Linked DNA regions of Homo sapiens: region 2 is linked to region 1. A link means that fine-mapping ties the variant in region 1 to the expression of a gene that starts in the linked region. Tissue or cell type: whole blood. Region 1 holds a variant in brackets; the other region holds the start of a gene. All regions are shown on one strand. Distances are from middle to middle.

Region 1 (2,848 bases):
AAAAGTTTTCAGTCTGAAAAACTCTTTTCAAGCCCAAGAAGACTTTTCCAAATCTTAAGTACTTTTAAAATCATTTTAAAATTTCAAGTGAGGCCAGGTGGTGGCTCACACCTGTAATCTCAATGCTTTGGGAGGCCAAGGCAGGAGGATCACTTGAGGTCAGGAGTTCAAGACCAGCCTGGGCAACACAGCAAGACCCCAGCCATACCAAAATAAATAAATTTTAAAATTATAAAATTTCAAGTGTTACTCTATCTTCTCCAGTAGTTCTTTTCCATGGAGCGTAATTTCTGATTGTTCAATCTGTTAATCTCTCTTGTTCAGATGGCAGTGCTTTCTTTCTATTGGCTTACTGTGCTCAGGGCTGGCTTCCAAGATGTTATTAATGGCTAGTAGCTCCTTTATTTGGTGAAAGTAAAAGGAGTCTCTCGTTCTGTGCCTGTGGTTAAAGACCAGGCTGTCCAAATCCTCAAGAGGGACCAGGTTGGAAGAAAGCACTCTGCTCTTAAGTCTTTATTCTCTCAGCCTCAAGGGTATGAAAGACACAGGCCTCCGATCAGATCTCTACCCTAATCACTTGTGGAGGCAAGTGGGGGAATGCAGAGAGGAGAATAGAGTATATTAACAGCTGTCATTCTCAAAGTCATACATCCTCCAAACCAAGCCCTGCACAGAATCTTTAGCTCTCTCATTTTGCCCTGGATTTTGATGCTTTCTTCCAATATGGGCAACAACACGGGGCCACCCAATTGGAGCCACACTATACAGGAAATGGGCAGATAACTCAGCAGCTCCCCCAGCAAATCCACAATAAACATATAGTGTAAGTAAGAAACAAACTGAATGATTCATATTTTAGGATTTTAGGGGTAATAACCACAGCATACCTTAGCTGTATGTGATAAAGGGTCTGACTCCATTTTTGATGTGTGTCTGCTCACAGCCTTCAAGTTCTACTAGTCCCCATTCCTCTTCTGCCCCATATCTGGGCAAGCTGTTAAGAAGGTCTGGATGCTCCTTCCTTTACACTAGTGGAAAGTTCAGACTACCTAAGACCTGGCCCACATGCAGAAATCCTCACACCCCATCCCCACCACCAAACCACCATAAAACCCAAGCCCCGTGTTGTTCTCTGTTTTCTCCAGAAAGCCTCATTATGTGAGTAATAAATCTTTTCCTATCCTCTTGGGGCACCTGTGACATTGTTAGTCTCTACATCCAAACCAATTGTGAGTAGGGGTGGGTCTGTCCCACTACTTCAGGGTGACTACACTAGCCTATGTGATTGATACAGTTATTAGCATGTAAAGATTTATAAAAAGAAACTAGTAACAACCACAATAAAAGAAAATGTGTGACAGTGGTTTACAGGTTGGGCAGCTGGCCACATAGAAACTGTTACATTGGAGGCTGGAAAGTTACTGATCCATGTTTGTAGTGGCAAAATACTTGGTACAATTATCATCTGTGATACCCTGAAAAGCAGATAAATTTACCCAATGAAAACTTTTTTTCTCTCTGACATAGAAACTAACAATGTTCTGGATAGTGGCAGCTTTGTTACCATGGATCCCAAAATGACAGCATGTGGAATATGATAAACATACTGCGTGAATGGGAAATAACCCTTTTTTGTTTTAAGTGGCTAACATTTCCATGTTCGCTACT[G/A]CAGCATAAATTAGCTCATCCTGACTGATAACAAAAGGGATATTCTCTACAACTTTCTCTTTTCATCTACTCAGTTGTGACCCAGAAGCAGTCTGAGGGTTGTGTGCAAACCTCCCTATGTCTTGCCTTTAAGAAAATGTGAGCTGTGGCCGGGCGTGGTGGCTCACACCTGCAATCCCAGCACTTTGGGAGGCCGAGGCAGGCAGATCACGAGGTCAGGAGATCGAGACCATCCTGGCTAACACCGTGAAATACCATCTCTACTAAAAAAATACAAAAAAATTAGCCAGGCGTGGTGGCGGGTGCCTGTAGTCCCAGCTACTCGGGAGGCTGAGGCAGGAGAATGGAGTGAACCTGGGAGGTGGAGCTTGCATTAAGCCGAGATCGCCACTACACTCCAGCCTGGGTGACAGAGCGAGACTCCATCTCAGAAAAAAAAAAGAAAATGTGAGCTGAGCCAGTCAGAAGATCCCTACTGCTGGAAGGTCCAGAGCTGCTTAAAAGTTGAAATTTAAAAAAATATATCTATATTTTTAAGTTGAAAATAATTTTCATCAAAGGGCTGAAAGCAAAGTTAGCATTGTCTTGGCGAATAGAAAGGAAACACTTATTTGATCTCTGTCTTTTGGTATCCTAAAACTTTTGTCTCCTTGCCTTGAAAAAATAAAACAAGATCTTAGCCCAGAGAAAAGAGAGACAGCTAATTTTGGCAGGTTCTAAAATAGTGATATAGTGTTGTGTAAAATGAACAGGCTAACACAAAATACATATTGTATGATCCCATCTTTATTGTTTTAAAGATGTATTTGTTTAAAGATTATTTGTTTTAAAGATGTAAAATCAAGTACTATACATATTCTAAAATGTTAACACTAGGCAATCTCTGGGATAGGGATGATTTTCACATATTTTTCTCTCTGTATTTTCTGATTTTTCTAAAATGAATGCATACTAATGAGAAATAGAAGTTTTAAAAACATTTTGTGTCATGTATGGAAGTTGCAGATGAGTACAGCTTAATTTCCTTAAAAACTTTTATTCTCTTTCTCTAGTAAAAAAAATATAAGAACCTTACTCTTACCATCACATTTCACAAGAGAGTCCTCAATTTTCTTAAAAGATGGTAAATGTATTTACATAAGCTAATGATGACCTCTCAGCAGTCATTTTAAAACACAGC
Region 2 (2,653 bases), 57 kb after region 1:
TTCCTCGATCATCAACAAATCACTTATCTCTACTACCTTAATGCCTCCTGCACTTGTCCATACTAAACAGTATTTACACGTTAAAAGAGAAGTTCTACAAATGCTACTATTCTTCATAAATAGAAAAAAACTATAAATGAGGGCAAATTCCCATACGTGGAAAAATGCCAAACCAGAAGCTGAAATCATAACTTTTAGGTATAGAACCACAGCTCCAATCAGTCAACTACAAACGTCGCCGGTTACTTCGAGGGTAAATAATTTGCAGCCAGCTGGTAAAAAGCCTGATAAAAATATTAGGTCCTCACATATCTTCCTTTTCAATAAGGAGACACCTGAAAGTCACACTGGGCAGTCTGTCACGTATCGAAACATGCAGAAGAGAGACTGTACAGAACGTGCAGTTATCAAACGCAGGAAGCCAAAGTTCCTGTGCTATGAGAGGACCACAGTGAAAAACGGTAGCCCATCTGTCCAAAGAACAGAAAGAAGTCCACCTGGAAAGGATGGGAGTCGGCGGAGGGGGGCGAGAAGAACGAGTTCCACGCCGTCTTCCTCCTCCCGGGCTAACTGCAGCCGCGGGCGGCAGGAAGGCAGCCGCGCGGGGTGGGCTCTTGGGGACTGGGCGCAGGGCTCCGCGGCGCGGCTGGGCTGCGGCTGCCCGATCGGCGAGGGCCGGGCCCCGGGAAGTCTCCAGGGCCTCGCCCGCGCAGCCAGGAAAGCATGCAGCCCACCGACGGGCGGAGGAACCGCCCGGGCAAAGCCACGTCGGTGGCTGACCGCGCGGCAGGGAGGTGGGCACCCTGTCCACACCCACCAGGAGGCTGACAGCTGGCGAGCGCCAGGCGGCCGGGACGGGACAAGGGCCGCAGCGCGCCGGAGGGGGTCGCTCTGAGAAAGCCGCGCTGGGCGCTGCCCGTCGCCAACGACTCCCCCTCGCCCGGATCAGCGGCGGCTGGATACTCACGTAGGGCTGGTAGAACTTGGAGAGCCGCGGCTTCCCGTGGTTGTTGAAGATTAGGATCGCCTTGATCATGGCTGTGCCGGGCCGACCGGGTGGGCACTGGGGGCCAGGGCGGGGGCGGGCGCGCGAGCCTCGCCTCGTAATCTCGCCTGCGATCCTTCCCCACCCGCCCCCTCCCGCACGCGACCGCGCGCGCTCCCGAGCCGTCGGGCGGGGCCCAAGGGGCGGGGCCTGGGCGGGGCAGGCACTAAGGAAAGCGGAAACATTTCTAGGTCCGAGCCAGCGGCCTAACTGGAGTGTGCGCATTCGACCGAGCACAGACACGTTGCCCACCGCTCCTCTCCCGAGGTCTGTAGTCGCGGAGAAACACATGTTGCGTTACTAACGTTCAGAGGTCTGCGACAGCTTCGATTTGAATGACTAGCCGGGAACACCAAGTTTCACTGTGTAATTGCGTCCCCCTACTCCGGCGCCTCCTTTGCGACGCTCCCTGGAGAAAAGCACGCCCACTGCACGCGCTCAGTCGCTACTTCCGCTCTCGAGTGTCTCCAAGCAAGATGGCGGAGGAGCCGCAGTCTGTGTTGCAGCTTCCTACTTCAATTGCTGCTGGAGGGGAAGGACTTACGGATGTCTCCCCAGAAACAACCACCCCGGAGCCCCCGTCTTCCGCTGCAGTTTCCCCGGGAACAGAGGAACCTGCTGGCGACACCAAGAAAAAAAGTAACTGAATTTATTTCCGGGCAGAGAGGCGGGAGGTTCAGATTGCATCCGAGTAGGGGTGGCGGCCAGTAAAGAAGCAAAATTTAGAGGAGCGCCTGTCCTAGACCTGCATTTTGACCAGTCATCAGAAGAAAAGAAGTGTACTTTTTGATTTTTAAGGCCTTTAAGTTGAGTGTTAAAATACCATCTCTGTCTATCGGTGTAGGGCCTGATACTTGGCTGCCACACTTATTTTTATACTGTATTTTTTTGAGTTGGCCAGACTGCGAGCTCTTTGAAGGAGGGAGGGAGCTGAGTGGGGCGGGGGGAGGGGGGTCTCGGTAATTCCAGGTACTTAACACAGGAGCTAATTATTTGAGTAATGTTTTATGGTGGTAGGGGTGGTCATTGGCAAAGCCTGGATTAGAATTCATGCCTTCCAACTTAACTCGCTTTTGCTTTTTTCCCCCTCCCAGTTGGTTGTGAATTCACTCCTTAAACCAAAAACCAAATTCTTATGCAGAATGAAGACTGCTAAGGGAAAGCTAAAGGCATAGATGTTACCTTTTTAAGAAACACATTTTGGAACCTTTGTGAGTTATTTCATTGCTTGAGTCAGCTATCCTCAACCCTTTATTGCTTGAGAATGTTTCCCTTTGTAAAAGAGATTGCTAAAATTACGTGTTCTAAAGCACTCTGTTTAGAGTTAGAGTTGCCTATGGGAAAAGCAGCATATAAGCATCCTCGATTCAGAGAGGCTGATTTCGTCCTTAGACGTTTTCCCCGTTCTGTCTTAAGATGACAGTGGTCTCTGGCCGGGCGCGGTGGCTCACTCCTGTAATCCCAGCACTTTGGTAGGCTGAGGCGGGTGGATCACCTGAGGTCAAGAGTTCGAGACCAGCCTGGCCAACATGGTAAGACTCCATCTCTACTAAAAATATAAAAGTTAGATGGGTGTGGTGGCGCGCGCCTGTAATCCCAGCTACTCGG

What was found. PIP is the estimated chance that this variant, and not a neighbour inherited with it, causes the effect.
Region 2: it holds the start of AP3S1, and the variant in region 1 is fine-mapped to the expression of AP3S1 in whole blood (TOPMed, PIP above 0.99).

The regions. Positions count from the first base shown.
Region 1 is chr5:115,896,829-115,899,676 of GRCh38, reverse strand. The region is part of intron 4 of AP3S1 (adaptor related protein complex 3 subunit sigma 1); the gene reads right to left. Among named protein-coding and RNA genes, the nearest start is that of AP3S1, 56 kb to the right of the region's middle. The variant G/A (reference allele first, on the strand shown) is at 1,669.
Region 2 is chr5:115,840,421-115,843,073 of GRCh38, reverse strand. It overlaps AP3S1 (adaptor related protein complex 3 subunit sigma 1), which reads right to left and starts at 1,139. Exons shown (of 6, transcript NM_001284.4): 1 at 968-1,139. The coding sequence starts at 1,036. It overlaps ATG12 (autophagy related 12), which reads left to right and starts at 1,509. Exons shown (of 4, transcript NM_004707.4): 1 at 1,509-1,684. The coding sequence starts at 1,522. RefSeq lists enhancers at 293-502, 1,493-1,542, 1,553-1,852, 1,241-2,142, 2,146-2,646 and silencers at 593-782, 883-1,262.